Homo sapiens: one gene and its partners. The protein of the gene in region 5 purifies or fractionates together with the protein of the main gene of each other region. This does not show direct contact. Each region holds a gene or a part of one and is shown on either strand. Other genes may lie near its edges.

Region 1 (3,500 bases), on a different chromosome or scaffold from region 5:
CTGAGCCCCTTCCTCCAGTTAACCCACAGTACAAGTGAGCCCTCGCCCCCACCTGTCTGCTGGTTCCTCTCAATCACAGCAAACACTGGAGGACCAGAGAAGAGCAATTACTCTTTGCTTCCAAAACCAAAATAGGAAAAAGACAGGACTTATTGAGAAATCAGGGGCCAGGGGTGAGGCTGGCTGGGTGGGCTCAGGTCCTCATGGGAACTTGAAGGAGCTCCACCCATGGCCTTATTATGATTTTTGCGGGCTGTGGGCATTTCTGTCTTCTTGAATTAAAAGCAAATATTAAAAATTACATTTTATGACTCAATTTGTTTAAATATAAATATAACCCCAGCTGGATTCTATACCATTATTTTCTTATGATTTCAAGATAAAATATTTCATGTACCTCTGTTGTGGGCCCTAAGTCATGGCCTCCTGTGCCTAGTGAACAAGTCAGCCTGGCCAAGGGGACTAGTGCTGGGGAGGGGTGAGAAGGGGCCACTGCAGGGGACAGGGGTGGGGACAGGCAGATGGACCAGGAGGGGCAGGTTGCAGGCTCAGGAGACGCCACAGGCTCAGGGACACCTATGGGGGTGGAGGCACCATGGGGTCAGGGCTGATAGATACGGGTACAAGGAGACTCGGGTCTTTTTAGGGTTCCTTGCTTCTGTGGGTTCTTTGAGGCTGCTGGGAGCCCCTTGGCTGTTGTCTCACCCTCTGCTGCACTTCCGGCACATCTCAGCAGAATTGTCATTCCGGAAAGTTCCTGGTTTGCACTGACATGCTGTGTTCCTGGTCGTGGTGCAGGGACTTCTCTCTTCTTCATCTGATGACAGAGTACAAGGTTTTGGGAATGTGTTTCCCTGACGTGTCCCTTGACCTTTCCTCACCACCCCAACTCCCTCCCCCTCAGCTCAGCTCAACTCAGTTTGCCAAGGAGTTCTGAGGGCCAGATTCTGCACCAGCACACTCGGGCTCACACAGGACACCCACCCTTCAGCTGTCACCAACACTTGGAGTCATACAAAAGGACCATGATTCATTATTTATTACATCAGATTAGGGAAAAAGCACCATTTAGATCGCATGGTCAGTAGCAAAGGAGGCACATGGTATGTGAGAGAGTCTGCAAGAAGAGGAGCCCTTGGGTGACTTCCCAAAAACCCAGCCTGCTGAGGAAGAGGGAGGCGCCTGAGAAACTGAAGGCTGAGTGAGCCTGAGAACCTGCCAGGAGCACACAGCCCAGGGGGAGCGTGGCCCCAGAGCAGACCCGTACCACCGCTGAAACTCAGCCCTGTCCACTCAGCCAGGCCTTCTTTGTGCTGTAATGATGCCCCTACCCTCTTGGAGCTGATAGTTTGCACTACCAGGTGGCATGCATTATAAAAATGATTTCTTTCTGTTTCATTTTATGGACCTAAGACATAACCATGGAACAGGGTATGATGAAGACCAAGTTGGGCTGGAACTTGGTTCCCTGACTCACATTGGCTACCACTCCCACCTCACTGCCCCTCACTCCACCTCTGGACAAGAGGTCCACACATTCTGTACCTGATTTACAAGCTGTACATGGGAGGCAAGCAAACAAATTGTTGGAAGCATTGGTGTAACCCACACCCTCTGTGCACCGGTTACAGGCTCCAGGATGTTCTGATCTATGAGATCCTGGGAAGGGAGAGAAAAGCCAATGAATGAATTGCCACAGAGTTCCCAGAGGATCGTGGCGGTGGCTAGGAAACTCTTCTTTTGGCCATCAGTAGACCCCAGACAGAGAAATCCCATCTTCTTGGCTTGGTCTTGTCGTCAATTCTGCATCTATACACACCTCTGACTGGCGCTGCTGACAGAAATACAATACAAACCACATGCAAAATTCAAATTCTATGAGAGCCATATTAAAATAGTAAAAAGAGAATGAGGTCAAATTAATTTTAACAATGTACTTTTTGGACCTAAAATATCCAAAACATTAGCATTTCAACATGTAAACAAGATAAAACATTGAGATATTTTCTTTTATTTTGAATACTAAGTGTTCGAAACCCAGAGTGTATTTTTCACTCACTGCACATCTCAATTCAAAGTGGCTGTGTTTTAAGTGATTAATGGCCACATAGGCCTAGAGACCAGGGCAATGCCACCTGCATCCCTGGAAACTCACAAAAAGTCCTAATCCCTGCCCTCAGTGAGCTCTTGGTCAGTAGAAGGTACAAACAGGCGCAGAAACAATACAGCGATGAGGGGAAGGCTTCAGATACAGCCCATGCCACCTGCCATGGGAGGAAAATGGAAGGAAAAAGGGTCCTCCCTATACAGAGTCAAAGAATGATCCACAGAAAGAAGGCCTACCTCATGCTGCCCTGGATTGCAGAGGGTCTCCAGGCACTGAGGTGACAGCCTGCAGGAGCTGTCGCCAGCGGGAGCCCATGTCTGGAGGCTCGACCTTCACCTCCAGGGCTTCGCCCCTTCAGGTGACCTCACTCTCCCCTTTCAGTGCCCATTTATTTATCCCTCTCCTCTGATTCATATTTACTGATATTGAAAGATACTCTTAGAAAACCCAAACTGTGGAAAAAAAACTTCCTTGATAATGTGTTACGATGACGACACTACCAATTATAAAAATGTGGTTATTGAGTAATAGTGCTGGGGCAACTAAGGTTACTACTGAAAAATAATAAAGGCTTTTTTTTTTTTTTGAGATGGAGTCTCGCTCTCTCACCAGGCTGGAGTTCAGTGGCGTGATCTTGGCTCACTGTAACCTCCGCCTCCTGGGTTCAAGCGATTCTCCTGCCTCAGCCTCCCGAGTAGCTGGGACTACAGGAGCGTGCCACCACGCCTGGCTAATTTTTTGTATTTTTAGTAGAGACGGGGTTTCACTAGGTTTCACCAGGATGGTCTCGATCTCCTGACCTCATGATCCACCTGCCTCGGCCTCCCAAAGTGCTGGGATTACAGGAGTGAGCCACCGTGCCACTGTGAAGGAAAAACTTCCTTGCTGATGTGTTATGATGATGACACTATCGATGATAAAAATATGATTATTCAGTAATGGCGCTGGGGCAACTAAGGTTACTGCTGAAAAATAATAAAGCTTCTTGCTTATGCTCTCCCTATAAGGAAATAGAGACTAGGTCTATCAAGGTGTCAACTGTAAAGTATGAAATCACACAAGTACTGCATGAGAAATTTTTCTTACAAGTTTGGAGAGAGAAAGGACCTTCTCAGTCTCACGAGAAACTAAAAAGTTGCATAAAGTTAACTATATGAAAATTAGGAAGAAAACTGCATGGAAGAAATCTTGACTAAGATGAAAACAAAGTAGGAGAAAATACTTGCAATGAAAACCACACTGCAAAGCATAGTTTCCTTAACCTATAGGAATTCATACCAAAAAAATCTAGAAAGAACATCAACAAGAAAGTAGTAGACTTGAACAACACTATTAACAACTAGACTGGACAGATGTCTATAAAACACTCTACTCAATCAAAACAAGATACACA
Region 2 (3,500 bases), on a different chromosome or scaffold from region 5:
GCCTGAGACAGGGAGAGGGTTTGGGCCTGAGCAGCAGGTCTGGTGATGAGAGGCATCATCAGCCTCTGGGAGTGTAGTCTTGTCTCCTGGGCCGTCCTGCCCAGTGGGAGGCCTCCTTGGCTGCTTTTGTTCCTGGCCTACCCATTGGGTTCCAGCCATCTCCACTGTTGCAGTGGACATACGGGGCAAGGGCCAGCCTGAGGGCACTGGAGTGGTCTCAGCCCTGCAAAGGGTCTTCTCCAAAGGCCCTTCCCTTAGCCTGGGAGGGTTGGGGTTCTCCAGGGCTGGGGTGGTCAGCAGGGTTCAGGAAGCCCTCAAGGCCTTGGAAGAACACAGGGCTCTCGATGTAGGGTGAGAGCTCCTGTCTGGAGCCTGCTCGGAGCTGGGTGGTCCTGCCAGGAGGCCCCTGCAGTCCCCCCTTTTCCTGTAGGGAGTCCTGCTGTCCGTGATGTCAGCCTGACTGCAGGGGACAGTCCTCAGTCCCTAGTGCTGGCTGTGTAGCCTGGGTCAGGCCCCTGCACCTGACACACAGTACCATTGTGCAGAGTGGGCAGAAGCCCACTGGCCTCTCACTGATCAGAATCATGGGTTGGGGGAGTGGGGAGCATGTGGCCCTCTGGGTGTGTTGACACCTGGCACTGAGGAGGTTCTAGCTGCCACTCAGCAATTTCTGGCTTCCGTGAGGAATCTGGCCTCCACCTGGAGCCAGCAATGTCTGTCTGGCACTGGCTGAGCCCCAGGCATCAGCACCCCTCACCACCCGGGGAAAGCTGGTTTCCATTTTACAGAGGACCTGGAGACTTGGAGAAAGGCTTGACACACGTGAGGCTGGTCACGGAGAGGTGGGGGGGTCCCAGTGGGAGCTCATGGCCATCTGGTCACCTCCCTCCTCATCCCTGTGCACTCCCTGAGCCCTGGCCAGAGCCCTGCTCCCAGCTACTTCAGGAGCAGTGGCTTTTGTGGCAATGGGCAAGCAGGCAGTGGCCGGCTCTACCCAGCACACGTGGCACTACCATGGCTGCCTGGCCGGGGGGCAGCCTTTGACCTCTACACTACTGACCACAGGGAACCAATGAGATTCTCCGGATGTACATCGCCCTGACGGGTCTGCAGCATGCCGGCCGCATCCTGACTACCAGGATCCAGTAGGTGCCATTGTCACCGTGTGCTTCTCAGGTCCCATACCTGCCCAGCAGGGGCCAGTCCAGGGCAGTGGGAGGAAAGAGCTGCCTTGACCTGGAGTGGGGGCATGGGGGTGTGGCGCAGCCTTGTGGAGGGGACCTTCCCCTGTGGTAGTGGGGGGCTTGCTGCCCAGGGAAGCCCTCGCTGCCCTGCCCTTATGGCCACAGCACCCTACAGCTTCAGCATAAATACCGTATCCCCCATCTGGTCCCTCACACTAGAGGCAGCTGGTTTTTCAGAACCTGAAGAATGAGAGGTGTCCCTTTAAAGGTGCCAGGCCTCACAGCCAACATAAGCCAGTGTTTCTCTTCTCTGCCCTTCTTCCCCTCATGCTCCCCTCCACCCCCACCCTAGGGGCACAGTAATCCAAAATCACTGCTGGAGGCCAAGTACAGGTTGCTAGTAGCATTTTGTCTCCTTCACAGGAGACAGCTGCTGGGAAGCTGGCTGTGACTCCACCCCTCATGGGGGAGCATATGTGTGGCTCCCCTGAGGAGACTGGCTGCTCTCTGGCAGGTGGTGGGTTTGGGGGGGTTCAGGCTGTAGCCAGGGGCCCAGCATACCCAGGCCAGAGGGGGGCACGGAGCTTCTGGGTGCCGAATGGGCCATGTTGCTGGACAGTGAGCGCCAGCAGCGAGGCCTCCAGTCACAGGACCATGGACTTTCTGCAGTGAGCTTAAACAGGCCAAAGTGAGCACAGTCATGGATACCGTTGGCCGGAGGCTTCGGGACTCCCTGGGCCGAACTGTGGACCTGGGGCTGACAGGCAACCATGGAGTTGTGCACCCCAGTCTTGCGGTGAGTGGGCCTAACAGGCATACCCCCTATTTCAATGCCCTCCTGCCAGATCTCCTTGTGGCAGAAAAGATCTCACTGTGGGGGGTCTGGGCTTCTCCAGGGGAAGTTGGGGAACACCAGCTAGTCCATGACACCCTGGATTGCTTCCCCCAGATGGGGCATCTCTGCCTGGTACCCGGGCTGTGAGACAGGACAGGGCACTGTAGGGATGAGGTGCTGAACTGAGTCCTGTCTTGGTTAATAGGACAGTGCCAACAAGTTTGAGGAGAACACCTACTGCTTCGGCCGGACCGTGGAGACACTGCTGCTCCGCTTTGGCAAGGTAACCAGGCCCTCCCAGGCCTGGGTCGCAAGCGGTCCTCCAATTTGGCCAGCATTCATGAGACTACTTTTTGTCAAGCATCCTTTGGGACCAGGCCTAGAACAGAAATGTTGATCACCCTGGAGGGATGGGGTGGTGAGGTCAGGCTGACTTTGTCAGCCTGGGGCCCACTTAGCTACTCGGATGGGTACCCTTGCTGGGTGAGTTTTCTGCAGTGTTTTTCTGTGCACCTTTCAGGTAGAGAGGCTCCCTAGAATCGGGAGGGCAGCTCCACCTGGGGCCTGAATCTAGGGACCTGATTGGTGGGGCCCTTGCTGCTGAAGGTGGCAGTAGCACAGTAAGCACTGGCTTCTGGTCTCAGCCAAGCTTCTGGGACCTGGTCTTGCCTTAACCCCTCCCTGAATCTAGAGCTCAAAGAGAAGGGAAAACAGAAGGTGGCTGGGAGCCGTTCTCCCACAACCTGAAGAGAAAGGTGTTATTGACTCCACTTTCTCAAGGAACACAGGAGACTAAGACAGGCAAAGATGCAGCCCAGGGAGGGACCATGTGGGGGACTGGTCTAGGTAGTGAGTCCCCACTTGGAGCCTCTGTGATCCCAGACCATCATGGAGGAGCAGCTGGTACTGAAGCGGGTGGCCAACATCCTCATCAACCTGTATGGCATGACGGCCGTGCTGTCGCGGGCCAGCCGCTCCATCCGCATTGGGCTCCGCAACCACGACCACGAGGTGAGCCCAGCCCAGCCTCACACAGGGCCTGGCTGCTGCCATCTGTCCTGCTGCACTTTAATGAAGTTGATTGTTGAGGAGGGTGTGGTCGGGTGTGGGGGAGGCTGTGCAGGTTCACCATGCGGTGGCCGTGGGAGGGTCTGTGCTGCTCAGGAGATGGGGCTGTTCCCTTTCTTCTTCCTGACTGAGAGAAGAGGGGGTGAGTGACAGGGGTTCCTGATCCCAGTGCCCCTACCCCCAGCAAGGGACAGACCCTGCACATTGCCCGCTGTGCTGGAGGGAGGCGGGTGCAGTCTCTGAGGACCCACTGTATACCAGGATCTCTGCCTGCACTTTCCAGAGCACCTGCAGATACCAGGATTGTGACATCTGCCTTTCAGAGGAAACAGGGTCAGAGATGTTGAGTCACTTGCTGTTGGGGAAAGGCTGTTGGATCAGGGCTGGAATTAGAACCCAAGACGGGGTGACTC
Region 3 (3,500 bases), on a different chromosome or scaffold from region 5:
GAAATTAAGGCTGGGTGTGGTGGCTCACGCCTGTAATCACAGTGCACTGAGAGGCTAAGGCAGGAGGAGTGCTTGAGACTAGGAGTTCAGACCAGCCTGGGCAACATAGTAACCAGCCTGGGCAACTGTCTCTACAAAAAAAAAATTAGCGGACTGTGGTGGTGCACCTGTTATCCCAGCTACTTGGGATGTTGAGGAGGGAAGAGCTTGAGCCCAGGGGGCTGAGGCTGCACTCCAGCCCAGGCAACAGGGTGAGACCCTGTCTCAAAAAACAAACAAACAAAAAACTAGGAAAGTAAGCTGATGGAAGGGAGTAAAATTAAAAGTTCTACCATGAATTAGCCAGGCGTAGTGGCGGGCGCCTGTAGTCCCAGCTACTCGGGAAGCTGAGGCAGGAGAATGGCGTGAACCCAGGAGGCGGAGCTTGCAGTGAGCCGAGATCGCGCCACTGCACTCCAGCCTGGGTGACAGAGCGAGACTCCATCTCAAAAAAAAAAAAAACATAGTTCTACCATGAGGGGCCAGGTGTGGTGGCTCATGCCTGTAATCCCAGCACTTTGGGAGGTCGAGACGGGTGGATCATTTGAGGTTAGGAGTTCGAGACCAGCCTGACCAACATGGTGAAACACTGTCTCTACTAAAAATACAAAAAAATTAGCCAGGCGTGGTGGCGCATGCCTGTAGTCCCAGCTACTCGGGAGGCTGAGGCAGGAGAATCGCTTGAACCTTGGAGGCGGAGGAGGTTGCAGTGACCTGAGATCTGCCATTGCACTCCAGCCTGGGTGACAGAGCGAGACTCTGTCTCAAAAAAAAAAAAAAAAAAAAGAAAGAGTTCTACCATGAGGAAAACAAAGCACACTTGACTTGGAATTGAGCACCCGTCAGAAGACCTCATTTGTGGCTCTGACACCGACCAACTGCGTGAGCTATGTTGACTCACAGGCATCTCGGTCTTTCCATGAATGAAGTGAAAGGAAAACCCCTGCCCACTAGAAATGCTATGTGACGCTACAGGAGATGACATCTTGGGTCATGAGGCTCACAGACAGCATTTTTTTTTTTAATCAAGACATTTTCATAAAACTACTTAGCCACTCTAGCTGCTGGCATCTAGGACGGCTGTTGAGTGTAGCAGAAAAGTGGGCTTGAGTGCTACATTGAAGACCCTCCATGGACTTTAGGTAGTAACACATGAAGTAGTTAAGGAGCTCTTCTTAATGATTTTGCCTGGATTCAATAAGATTGAGTCACAATCTAAAAGATACATTTGTTTATCATTCTAGTGTCCTTTGCACTTAACTGCTGTCCCAGATACAAGTTGCAGTACAGCACTGGAGAGACTGTCAGGCTGGGCTGACCTTGATTTTGGTTGCTGTGGGACACATTACCTTCCAGCCTGGCTTGGCAATGTGCTTAAAGTAGGGAAAGTGGTCCTCAATCCACGTATAGATGTCTTTCAAAGTCATGCGCTTCCTCTCAGTGCTGTTGATGGCGAATTGTATCATGGCCATGTAAGAGTAGGGTGGCCGCTCAGACACAGAGTTCTGCCAGGACGCTGATGGTCTCGAAGGCTCCTCAACCTGAGGGTTATGACACAGGGAATGACATGAAAGAGTTCATGAGAAGCACCCCCAACCCAAGCCCTTGAAGAACATCTAGAGAAACCTTTATCCCATAGGACGGTCTAGAAACAAACTCATCTGAGACCACTATCTCATAGAATAAAATTTTAGAGTTGGGAAGAATCTTGGAGATGATCTAGCCTAGACCCTAGCCAATAAGAAACTGGTTTTGTCATCCATCATTTTGTTGAATTTGGAGAAAATCCAGTCCCTTCCAGTTGAAATTTCTTAGGAAAGTTTGAGTATGTACTTTGATTCTCAAAGCATTGATGTTACACTAAAACCACGCCCGTTTTTCAGACTTTTGGGTCTAGAAACCTAGGTCTTAGTCCCATTTCTGTTCCTGATGTGCTGTGAATAAACGCATCTCATTTCAATGTTTGTATGAGAGAAACATTCTCAAGACTATGAGTCAGACAATGTCTGCAAAGCACACAGTTAGCTAAGTTTTAGGCAAAGAGCTGATCAATCACATTTCTTTTTCTTTTTTTGAGACAGGGTCTCACTGTGTCACCCAGGATAGCGTGCAGTGGCTGGATCACAGCTCACTGCAGCCTTGACCTTCCCAGGCTCAGGTGATCCTCCTGTCTCAGCCTCCAAGTAGCTGGGACTACAGGCATACACCACCACGCCCAGCTAATTTTTTTTTTTTTTTTGAGATGGAGTTTCACTCTTGTTGCCCAGGCTGGAGTACAATGGTACGATCTCGGCTCACTGCAACCTCTGCCTCCTGGGTTCAAGCGATTCTCCTGCTGCAGCCTCCCAAGTAGCTGAGATTACAGGTGCCTGCCACCACGCCCAGCTACTTTTTTTGTATTTTTAGTAGAGATGGGGTTTACCATATTGGCCAGGCTAGTCTCGAACTCCTGACCTCAGGTGATCCACCCACCTTGGCCTCCCAGAGTGATGGGATTACAGGCATGAGCCATTGCGCCTGGCGATTTTTTTTTTTTTTTTCGTATTTTTAGTAGTAGAGACCAGGATTTTGCTATGTTGCCCAGGCTGGCCTAGAACTTACGGGCTCAAGCAATCTGCCCACCTTGGCCTCCCAAAGTGCTGGGATTACAATTGTCAGCCGCTATGCCCGGTCTCATTCACATTTTTAAAATTGGAGATATTACTTTCTAAAGTACACAAATTTTATGTATATAGCACAATTAATATTTACTTACATATACACGCATGTAAATTTTCACTTTTTTTTTTTTTTTGAGACAGAGTTTCACTTTTGTTGCCCAGGTTGGAGTGTAATGGCACGATCTTGGCTCACCGCAAGCTCTGCCTCCTGGGTTCAAGTGATTCTCCTGCCTCAGCCTCCCGAGTAGCTGGGATTATAGGCATGTACTACTGCACCCAGCTAATTTTGTATTGCTAGTAGAGGCGGGGTCAGGCTGGTCTGGAACTCCCGACGTCAGGTGATCCACTCACCTTGGCCTCCCAAAGTGCTGTGATTACAAGCATGAGTTATCGCGCCTGGCCAAATTTTCACTTTTAAAGATTGTTGAGCTGGAGGCTATGATCCTAAGCGATTTAATGCAGGAACAGAAAACCAAATATTGCATGTTCTCACTTATAAGTAGGAACTAGGCTGGGTACGGTGGCTCACGCCTGTAATCCCAACACTTTGGGAGGCTGAGGCGGGTGGATGACGAGGTCAAGAGATTGAGACCATCCTGGCCACCATGGTGAAACCCCATCTCTACTAAAAATAAAAAAATTAGCCGGGCGTGGTGGCGGGCGCCTATAGTCCCAGCTACTCGGGAGGCTGAGGCAGGAGAATCACTTGAACCTGGGATGCAGAGGTTTCAGTGAGCAGAGATTGTGCCACTGCACTCCAGCCTGGCAACAAAGAGAGAATCCGTCTCAAAAAGAAAAAAA
Region 4 (3,500 bases), on a different chromosome or scaffold from region 5:
CTGAGGCCGTGGTCTGCTCTTGACCAGTAAGCTGAGAAGCTGGGGAGAGACAGTGCGGGAAGGAGGCATTGGTGGGGAGGTGACTGCCAGACAGGGGTTGTCTGGAAAGGAGGGGAAGGAGAGGCGCCAGAGGGGATCTCTGTAAAATGTCTCTCCCCTAAGTGCTAAATTCCTATTTTTTCTCCTCTCTGCTAATCCAACTCCTTTTGCTTTAGGTGAGAATAGCCAAGAGTTCAGCCCCACCTTTTCAGAACGCATTTTCATCGCTGGGTCCAAACAGTACAGGTAAGCAGGGGAGACAAGCCTGAGTGGGAAGGTGGGGACTGGACCCAGCGCCCTCGTCCCCAGCACTTGCCTGGGCCGCTCCTGCTGACCCCGGGCTCCCTCCCTCAGCACCTGTGGTTCAGCTCCTGGAACTCACCCAGGCTTTCCTGGCTGAGCCGCTCTCTCAGCCAAATAAGCTTTTCAAAGGCTTTTCACAGCTTGTGGCTGACTGCCTCTGGGCCACATCAACTTGACATTTTATTTTTATTCTCCTCAGAGTCCTTAATGCACCCCCTCGTTTCCCATCAACAGGGAGGGTGCTGGGAACAGAAGCTGCTTCCCACTCTTGCGTGACCGTGAGCGCAGGCCGGGTTGGTGGGGGGGGCCTTCCACTGTCCTCTATGGGAGAAACCTGCTGGTGCCTTTTCTCCTGGGAGATGCACCGAGTAGGGATGCGGGCGGTAGAAAAGGAGGGGACAGATAGACTTGGTGGCCCGGTAGAAAGGAAGCCAGGGTGGGGCTGAGTCTGTTCCCAGGCTCTGCATTCCCCCACAGATGATTTTTTGAAACAAGAGTTCAAGTGCTGGGCACAATGGCTCTCACCTATAATCCCAGCACTTTCTGAGGCCGAGGCAGGTGGATCACGAGGTCAGGAGATCGAGACCATCCTGGCCAACATGGTGAAACCCCGTCTCTGCTAAAAATACAAAAATTCCCTGGGCATGGTAGCGCATGCCTGTAACCTCAGCTACTCAGGAGGCTGAGGCAGGAGAATCGCTTGAATCCAGGAGTCGAAGGTTGCAGTGAGCCGAGATTGTGCCACTGCACTCCAGCCTGGTGACAGAGTAAGATTCTGTCTCAAAAAAAAAAAAAAAAACAAGAGTTCAAGCTAGAAACAGCTCCTTCCCCTATCACCAGGCAGGTTTTGTATCATTGGAGTTTGGAACCTGCTAGTGATAAGATTGTGGGGAGGGCAGCTGGCTGCCTTGGAACCAAGAAATGCTCAGTTTGGTGGGATTCCTTCTGCTGTCCTGGGTGCCTTTTGGCCCAGGGTAGGAGCCTCTGATAGACACACTTCTTTCAGCTGTCCAAGAGAAGCCTGTAGGCCTCCAGTGGTCCCCAGGACTGCCATGAGTCTGCCTTCTCCATGGGGGCAGAAGATGAGGCCAAGGGAGGGTGGCTGAGGCCATGATCTGCTCCACAGCTGTTCTGCAGCAACCCATCTGTTGCCGGGTCCTTTAATACTTGGCAGGGATCCCAGTCCAGTTAGAGCCATGGCAGTGATGAGCCCCGAGGCCAGCAGAGAAGGGCAGGCTCCCCAGTACCAGGCAGCAGCCCAGGCTGTTCACCTTCAACAGCAGCCAGGGACCCCCAGGAACTGTGAGAATGGAGGTGACCAGCCTTACCTGTTCCTCCATCCGGAGGCAACAGAAACAAGCTCTGCTCAGTCAGAGCTGAGAGGCCTGCCATGAGCGTGGCCCCCTCCTAGGAACTCTCCAGGGGCAGCTCACCTTGGAGAGCAGTGAGCGAACCGTGTCTGCTCCCCTGACTCTCCCCAAGAAGTGCTGAGTCTGTACCCCATCACCATAGTAACAAGCACAGCTTCTCGGCAGCTTGCCTTGGGGCCAGACACTGAGCTGGGCTTTTTAAATGAACTAAATTATTGAAACTTCATTTCCACCCTGTATGGCAGAAAATACCAAACCCATTTTATAAGTGAGATAAGTGAGAAAACAGGTTCCTTGGGATTTAGAAACCTTGCCGCATTCACACAAGGAATGGCAACCTGGGATTTGACCTTGGATCTGCAGGAGTCCAGATACAAGTGTCTGGACCAGTCCATCTTCCTGCTTCCTCGTGCTCAATATGCAAATCTGTCCCTTTTGTGACAGCCAGTCCGAGAGTCTTGATCAGATCCCCAACAATGTGGCCCATGCTACAGAGGGCAAAATGGCCCGTGTGTGTTGGAAGGGAAAGCGTCGCAGCAAAGCCCGGAAGAAACGGAAGAAGAAGAGCTCAAAGTCCCTGGCTCATGCAGGAGTGGCCTTGGCCAAACCCCTCCCCAGGACCCCTGAGCAGGAGAGCTGCACCATCCCAGTGCAGGTGAGACCCTCCACCCACTGCCCAGACCCCAGGTTCATGGGGCCTTGAAATTGGAGCCTGTCCCTGGGCCCTGGCCCTCTGTGCTGATAGCTGTGTTTCCCCCCGCAGGAGGATGAGTCTCCACTCGGCGCCCCATATGTTAGAAACACCCCGCAGTTCACCAAGCCTCTGAAGGAACCAGGCCTTGGGCAACTCTGTTTTAAGCAGCTTGGCGAGGGCCTACGGCCGGCTCTGCCTCGATCAGAACTCCACAAACTGATCAGCCCCTTGCAATGTCTGAACCACGTGTGGAAACTGCACCACCCCCAGGACGGAGGCCCCCTGCCCCTGCCCACGCACCCCTTCCCCTATAGCAGACTGCCTCATCCCTTCCCATTCCACCCTCTCCAGCCCTGGAAACCTCACCCTCTGGAGTCCTTCCTGGGCAAACTGGCCTGTGTAGACAGCCAGAAACCCTTGCCTGACCCACACCTGAGCAAACTGGCCTGTGTAGACAGTCCAAAGCCCCTGCCTGGCCCACACCTGGAGCCCAGCTGCCTGTCTCGTGGTGCCCATGAGAAGTTTTCTGTGGAGGAATACCTAGTGCATGCTCTGCAAGGCAGCGTGAGCTCAGGCCAGGCCCACAGCCTGACCAGCCTGGCCAAGACCTGGGCAGCAAGGGGCTCCAGATCCCGGGAGCCCAGCCCCAAAACTGAGGACAACGAGGGTGTCCTGCTCACTGAGGTAACTAATCCCCCGGCACCTGTATATGTCCCTCTACCAGCAACCTGGGGGATGCTTTTCTCTCTTTATCAGAGTCACTCTTGCCTGTGGTGACAAATCAAACAGTAGGACAGTGCTCATTGTGGATGAAAAGTATCATCTCTTATTCCGCCAATCTCACTTCTCACAGCCTTTTTAGCGTCTTCTGTTCTGAGTTCTTCTGGTTGGTCACCTCCTGCTTGCTGAATGTGGGCACTGCATTAATAGTACACATGCTGAGGACAAGGGGAATCAGCCAGGAGCCACTGGAGATGTTATCATGGCCCCCAGAGACGGAAGATGAGGATGGGACCTGTTTTCACCACCCACCTCCTTCCCTTTTTCCTCTTGTTAACTTCCCAAATAATTTTATAACTTTAAATGATTTTATC
Region 5 (3,500 bases):
GATACTAATACACAGGTTGGCTGGGAGGGAATGGAGATTGACACTGGGGGTGTGTGAAGTGATGAGGCCCGAGTTAGAGTTGTGGAGGGTAGGCTAAGGAGAGGAAAGAGTGAAAAAGAGACTGTGAAGGAAAAATGGAAATTAATGAGGGGTGGATGTGGGAGATGAAGAAGGGTGATGAGTCAACTACAACTGTGACACGTTGTGCCTGGGTGTCTGAGACATTGAGTGAAATAAAGAAGTTAGGAAGCTTTCCTCATTTTGGGGAAATATGATGAGTATAATTTGCGATGTGTTGGATTTAAAGTGGCAATGAAATGTCCAAATGAAGGCTGTCCTGGGTGTGAGCTGGAGTAAAGATGGGGGTAGGTTTGGAAATGCAGTTTTGCAATTCATGGCCTAGATGTGGTAGCTGTAGCCAAGAGAATTAATAAGCTCTCTGAGGACTAAAGTTTAGGGAAAGAGCAGAAGGGCAAAGAAAATGGTACTGATAAACCTAAACACGTCTAAACCTAAACATGTCTCCTATCTTGTAAACACCATCCTAGGCACTGAGATGGAGGTAAGGGAGACAAGGAACCCACGAGGAGCGTATGGGTCTAGTGGGAGGAGACAGATATGTAAATATATAGATAGAATGAAGTGTGATAGATGCTGTGATAGAAGTATGCAGCAGGGAGAGTGGGAGCCCAAGGGTCAGTTCTGCCTTGGGCATGCTGAGGTTGGAAAGAGCCTCCCTGAGGAGTTAGCATTTGAGCTGAGTCTTGAAAGATGAATTAAGGATATACTCTACAGATGACAAGAATTACATTCCAGTCTGAGAAAATACCATGAACAAAAGCTTAAAGGAATGAAGGCCAGACTTCTTCAGGTAACTTTTACTTAATCATTATGGCTGGAGGATGGGATGGAGGGCAGGCTGAAGAGGTAGGCAACGCTGGATCATACAGAGTTTTTATCTTTTTTTTTTTTTTTTTGAGACAGAGTCTTGCTCTGTCACCCAGGCTGGAGTGCAGTGGCACAATCTCAGCTCACTGCAAGCTCCGCCTCCCGGGTTCACGCCATTCTCCTGCCTCAGCCTCCCGAGTTGCTGGGACTACAGGCGCCCGCCACCATGCCCGGCTAATTTTTTGTATTTTTAGTGGAGGCGGGGTTTCACCATGTTAGCCAGGATGGTCTTGATCTCCTGACCTCGCGATCCGCCCGCCTCGGCCTCCCAAAGTGCTGGGATTACAGGCGAGAGCCACCACGCCCGGCCTGGAGCTTTATCTTATACTGCAGTATATCAGGAGCCATTTAATACGTTTCACATCCTAGAAAGATTATGTCAGTGGTGTGTAGGGTGGATTGGAGATGGAGAAAGCAGAATTCCTTTCAATAACTTCATTATACTGAACACATTTATTGAGAGTGATCATATTTACAGATTCATGGAATCAGACAACTGGCGGGGCTGCGATGCTTTCTTAGTTTTCCTCATTCATTTTCAAATAGAATACCTGAGGTTTACTCAGGATCACAGAAGTGGTTCTGTGATAGCTTAGTCTAGAATTCAGTCTTCAGCATGTACTAGGTGATTAATAAAGGTGAATTCACCTCTCTCTTCTCTCCCAAGTCCCATTTCAGTGTTTGTGTCATTCTGCCACATTGCATTGTACTAGCAGATAGAAGGACTTAACATCATTCCATTCTACCGTCTTTTTTTAACCAGTCCAAAGTGAATAGAGGTATTTTCCTAGGTCTGACTGAGAAAGATGTTCCCTGAGAGTACCATTGGGAAGAGGGGCAGTTCGGTGCCCTGGACTGGGCTGAATGAGGTGTTAGGATTTTTCAGCTGTAGTGATTCAGATGTAGAAGAATGTCAAGGTATTTGTTTTGTTGCATGTCTTTATCTCTGCCACTAAGCTCCCTTTAAGTTGTTTTCTTTTAAACTTAGTTTTATTTGTGCCACTGAAACTTGTTAAATAAGCTATGATAAATTGGGCACTGATTAAAAGTATATTTATCTAAAAAAAAAAGAATATCTAAACAAAATTTAGAAAAGTTCAGGGAAAAAACCCAAACAGAAACAATTTTGAGCCTACATCCCAAATTTGATGGACATTAACATTTTGTCATATTTGTTTTAGATGTCTTACTCTCTTTAAAATATTAAATACTCAGATTCTGCATCTTCCCTGTATTTTCATTTTCATTGGATTTTTGTGGAGGGAAATTGTTTGGTTTTAAAGTGCTAAGTGAGAGTTTGGATTTTGTGTTTTAGTCACTTTTGCTGGAGGAGAACAGAACAGGGTAGAGGGCATCCTCTAAGTCCTTAGATTCCCCTGGGAGAAATTGGGACTTAAGGACGTGTGGAAGGATGGATACCTTCCATTGATAGGCCTTCCTCAAAACTTGTCTGAGTTGTGATTTTTAAATTCTTTTCTCTGGGCTCTGTCAGCATCTTCCCCAGAGAAGGGCCTTGGTTTGGAAGCTGTCCACTTAAGCAGAGCTGCCAAGTCTTAATTCTTTCTCAAGTGGGCAAGGGTACATTTTGTTTTTGTTTGTGAGTATTTGGGAGAAGGAAGGGGTGGGTAGAAAGGAGGCACAGAATAGCTACTCACAGTGAGTACTTATCTGAATTCCTGTGTAACTGGAAGCTTTCTTGGCTGTTTTAGGGGAGATAACTTGGTTACACTAGCATTTAAATTATGTGGGAAGGTGGTTTTTCACTCCCCTCTGCTATCTGATTTGAGATGGCAATAAACCTTCTTGTCCATTTTTGTCAGTCCTCACTCTACCCTGTTCTAAGCGCTGCTGTTTGAGGGATGTGAAGGCTCCTCTTCAGTCTAAAACTGAACAAGTCAGATATCTCCTTATAGTTTTGGGAAACCATTCTGCTCCTGACTGTTTTTGTGTTGACTCCTCTATTCATCAAATCACCTGGCCCTTTATTAATTTTACAATTTTGCATAATGAGATATTTCAAACATTTAGAAAAGTTCAGGGGAAAAACTCAGGCAATTTTGAGTCTACAACCCCAACTTGATGGACATTAACATTTTGTCATATTTGTTAGATGTCTTACTCCCTTTAAAATATTAAATGTTATAGATATAGCTGAAGTTCCACCCTGCATCCTTTCCTCCTTCCTCTTTCTCAAGAAATGACTACTGGCCTGAATTGATGTGTTCATTCCTTCATGTTTTATACTTCCTCTGCCCCGCCACATCTTTATTTATTTATTTATTTATTATTTATTTATTTTTGAGATGGAGTCTTGCTCTGTCACCCAGGCTGGAGTGCAGTGGCACGATCTCTGCTCACTGCAACCTCTGCCTCCCGGGTTCAAGCGATTCTCTTGCCTCAGCCTCCCGAGCAGCTGGGATTACAGGTGCGTGCCACAGTGCCCAGGTAATTTTTGTATTTTTAGTAGAGACGGAGTTTTGCCCTATTGACCAGGCTGGTCTTGAACTCCTGACCTCAAGTGATCTGCCCACATTGGCCTCCTAAAGTGCTGG
Region 6 (3,500 bases), on a different chromosome or scaffold from region 5:
TTGAAAGAACGGATCCTACTATCTGACTTTAAGTTTGCTAAAATAATGTATAAATGAAGATTTCTATCATAATAGGCTAATATTATCATAACAGACATCAACTAAACATAATAGATTTCACAGGAAGTATACTGTGGCAGACTCCTTGCTGCCCAATACTTATACCTTCCAAGACTGTAGCCAAATGGTTAGACTATACAGCTCAGCCTCCTCTGTAGGGGAGGTATGGCCATACAACCAAGTTCTCTTCAAAGGAATGTGAGTAGAAGTAGTGTGTCATGTCAGGGCTATAGTTTTTAAGACAGTGAATGTGTTCTTTCTTTTCCTTCCACCCTCTGCTGAAGATAAAGCAGAGGCCCTAGGGAATGGTAGTGCCAGAAAATAGAACTTGGGTTCCTAAATCAACCACACGGAGGAAAGCCAGCTGCCAATCAGGAAGACTCACCTTGGATTTTTGTGAATAAGAAACAAACTTTTGTATTTGGACGATGGTATGTTTTTGATTCTCTTAGTTAGGGAATTTTAGCCTACTCTACTTCATACATCTACTTATTTGCTTCCAAAATAAATGGTGAATGTGATGTAATCCACTTGCTGTTGAAACAGTTGGGAAAAACATTTATTTTTTATTATTATTATTTTTTGAGACAGAGTCTCAGTCTGTCTCCCAGGCTGGAATGCAGTGGTGCAATCTCAGCTCACTGCAACCTCCGCTTCCTGGGTTCAAGCAATTCTCCTGCCTCAGTCTCCCAAGTAGCTGGGACTACAGGTGTGTGCCACCACCCCCGGCTAATTCTTGTATTTTTTTAAGTAGAGACAAGGTTTCGCCATATTGGCCAGGCTGGTCTCGAACTTCTGACCTCATGATCTGGCTGCCTCGGCCTCCCAAAGTGCTGGGATTACAGGCGTGAGCCACTGCACCCAGCTGGGAAAAACCTTTCGAAGTGCCAAAGAGAAAACTTCTAAATTATAGCAATGTTTTTATGACCCAAGTGCATCCTTAAAAATCTTTAAGATTTATATCTAAACATAAAAATAAATATAAACAGACAAAAGCAACTAGAATAATAATGACTTCTCAGACCTATTACTTACCAAGGGAAGAATGGAATGTGGAATAACTATGTGGCTAGTACTCAATGTGGACACAGCTTAAGATCTTTAGCACTTACCTCCATTTTTTCTTCTAATTCATGAAGAAATTCACCATCGGCAGCTATTGATGAAATGGCAGTGGAACTTTTGGCACTAAGAATGGCTCGAGCAATGTACTCTAGTCGCTGCTGAAGTGAAATTTCTGTGCTAGAAGGGAAAACGCTTATTTTTAGTTACACAATTTCTTAAGGATTGATGATACAAATACGTCAATTAGTATGTACTGTTTCATACCAAACACACATAAAAAGCCATCTGAAACTTGAAAAAAAATCATTAGATTTAAAAAAAAATCTATTTTAGATTTCTCATAAGAGAGATCCACAATTTTAGACAACACATAAAGAAATACATTTATGACTAAAAAGTAACATCCTATTTAAAAAATTTAGGTCAGTATATTAAAACTTAGATTCTTCTAAAATTAAAGAAAACTGAATGTAAGTACATATAGCTCAGTTTTGAATCATTCTTCACAATAAGAATATTATGCCATACCTATGCATGTCAGCCAGTCTGGACAGTACACGAGCAGCATTACTGAAACTTCTGTTCTTCTCGTAATACCGCCAGAGTAAATCCATATAACGAACTCTGTTTTGATCAACTTTGGCCATTCGGACTAGATGTGGCTCCAGAAATGGAGAAGCAACCTAGAAATTATATAGTTATTCAGAAAAATTTTCTAACCACCTACAGATAATGTTCCTGATAAGGAAAATATAGTATTTTTAAGTCAACTACAACTTTGCCTTGTTTTATGAAAACAAGCAAAATTATAATCCAATACTAACAGATAAAAGAGAGGGCAAATTTTCTTATTATAAACAATTTTTGTTTTACCACAGTTAGCATAAGAGTTTCCAAAACAATTCTATTAGGTTGATAACAATAATTTAGTAGGCTGGGCATGGCGACTCATGTCTGTAATCCTCGCACTTTGGGAGGCCGAGGTGGGCAGATCATGTGAGCTCAGGAGTTTGAGACCAGCCTGGGCAATATATGGCAAAACCTCGTCTCTACAAAAAAATTAGCTGGGTGTGGTGGTGCGGGCCTATAGTTCTAGTTACTCAGGAGGGTTAGGTGTGAGGATCACCTGAGCCTAGGGAGGTCAAGGCTACAGTGAGCCATTATCGTGCCATTGCACTGCACTTCAGCCTAAGCTACAGATTGAGACCCTGCCTCAAAAAAGAAAAGGAAATTTGGCCGGGCACAGTGGTTCATGCCTGTAATCCCAGCACTTCGGGAAGCTGAGGTGGGCAGATCACCTGAGCTCAGGAGTTTGAGACCAGCCTGGCCAACATGGTAAAACCCCGTCTCTACTAAAAAGATATAAAAATTAGCTGTGCGTGGTGGCGGGTGCCTGTAATCCCAGCTACTTGGGAGGCTGAAGCAGGAGGATTGCTGGAACCCGGGAGGCGGAGGTTGCAGTGAGCTGAGATCATGCCACTGCACTCCAGCCTGGGCAACAGAGCCAGACTCCATCTCAAAAAAAAAAAAAAAAAAAAAAAAGGGAAATTTACTATAAAATTACAAATTTTTAAATAAACTTTGATAACACAGCTATTGATTCCTAGACATTGAGCTCAAAGGCATTATTGAAATTATCAAATGCTATGTATTCATTAAACAGATTGAGGAACACTGAAACTTAGGGTAGGTAAAAGGACATATCTGAAGTCACAGTGACTTAACAGCAGAGTTAAGATAAGATGACCTACAGGACTCATATTCATAATCCAGTGATTTCTACCCCGCAATACAAACTATCCCAATCAGCTTCGAATTAACAAGAAAATTGGAGCAGTAGCCTACTTTGCCCCTTAGGAAAAGATACTGCATTACTCAGCTTTATACTAACATCTAATAGCAGGCATGGGATGAGAAACTGAATTTTTTACATCTATATATGTGCTTAAATCATTGAGTTATGCTCCTTAAGAATAATTAACACAACTGCAATAAAAAAAGATTTACCTGTAGCAGCTTATCTGCAAGGTCGACTTGTATTAGCCAATTATAAAGGGCAATACTAAAGAGCTCATCCTTGGATCGCTGTGACAATTTAAGCATTTGTTCAAACTAAAATAAAGAAAATAGTAAAAATTAGCAGTTAAAGGCTCTGTTTCTGGGCATCACAACCCTTTAGCCCTATAAACTCCAGTAAGAAATCAAGAATCCTTACATGATAACTTCTAAGAACTACCACCTTTCCCCAAGATGACTGTGCTACCATTACCATGGAGAACTTCTAAACAGTGTATTCTCAGAATGAAAATATACTATGTCCCTTACATGATGTCCTGCTTCTTCATTACTCAGCATATTTGGATCAGATGACAACA

What was found.
Region 1: the proteins of OTUD7B (region 5) and TNFRSF10A purify together in Homo sapiens (co-immunoprecipitation; one study listed by IntAct). This does not show direct contact.
Region 2: the proteins of OTUD7B (region 5) and ACAD9 purify together in Homo sapiens (affinity purification with mass spectrometry; one large-scale study listed by BioGRID and IntAct). This does not show direct contact.
Region 3: the proteins of OTUD7B (region 5) and FOXM1 purify together in Homo sapiens (affinity purification with western blotting, with the first as the bait; one study listed by BioGRID). This does not show direct contact.
Region 4: the proteins of OTUD7B (region 5) and MAP3K14 purify together in Homo sapiens (affinity purification with western blotting; one study listed by BioGRID). This does not show direct contact.
Region 6: the proteins of OTUD7B (region 5) and NUP155 purify together in Homo sapiens (affinity purification with mass spectrometry; one large-scale study listed by BioGRID and IntAct). This does not show direct contact.

The regions. Positions count from the first base shown.
Region 1 is NC_000008.11:23,201,103-23,204,602, forward strand, and holds part of TNFRSF10A (tumor necrosis factor receptor superfamily member 10A), read right to left. Parts: intron 1,660-3,500; coding exon 1,546-1,659; intron 818-1,545; coding exon 706-817; intron 1-705. UniProt on the Homo sapiens protein: Receptor for the cytotoxic ligand TNFSF10/TRAIL. The adapter molecule FADD recruits caspase-8 to the activated receptor.
Region 2 is NC_000003.12:128,907,120-128,910,619, forward strand, and holds part of ACAD9 (complex I assembly factor ACAD9, mitochondrial), read left to right. Parts: intron 1-1,065; coding exon 1,066-1,145; intron 1,146-1,853; coding exon 1,854-1,980; intron 1,981-2,224; coding exon 2,225-2,302; intron 2,303-2,753; exon of another isoform or gene 2,754-2,901; coding exon 2,902-3,030; exon of another isoform or gene 3,031-3,144; coding exon of another isoform or gene 3,145-3,214; intron 3,215-3,500. UniProt on the Homo sapiens protein: As part of the MCIA complex, primarily participates in the assembly of the mitochondrial complex I and therefore plays a role in oxidative phosphorylation.
Region 3 is NC_000012.12:2,867,175-2,870,674, forward strand, and holds part of FOXM1 (forkhead box protein M1), read right to left. Parts: intron 1,581-3,500; coding exon 1,389-1,580; coding exon of another isoform or gene 1,344-1,388; exon of another isoform or gene 1,040-1,343; intron 1-1,039. UniProt on the Homo sapiens protein: Transcription factor regulating the expression of cell cycle genes essential for DNA replication and mitosis. Plays a role in the control of cell proliferation. Also plays a role in DNA break repair, participating in the DNA damage checkpoint response.
Region 4 is NC_000017.11:45,286,021-45,289,520, reverse strand, and holds part of MAP3K14 (mitogen-activated protein kinase kinase kinase 14), read left to right. Parts: intron 1-215; coding exon 216-285; intron 286-2,156; coding exon 2,157-2,367; intron 2,368-2,475; coding exon 2,476-3,090; intron 3,091-3,500.
Region 5 is NC_000001.11:150,000,727-150,004,226, reverse strand, and holds part of OTUD7B (OTU domain-containing protein 7B), read left to right. Parts: intron 1-3,500. UniProt on the Homo sapiens protein: Negative regulator of the non-canonical NF-kappa-B pathway that acts by mediating deubiquitination of TRAF3, an inhibitor of the NF-kappa-B pathway, thereby acting as a negative regulator of B-cell responses.
Region 6 is NC_000005.10:37,301,607-37,305,106, forward strand, and holds part of NUP155 (nuclear pore complex protein Nup155), read right to left. Parts: coding exon 3,451-3,500; intron 3,238-3,450; coding exon 3,133-3,237; intron 1,809-3,132; coding exon 1,654-1,808; intron 1,303-1,653; coding exon 1,173-1,302; intron 1-1,172.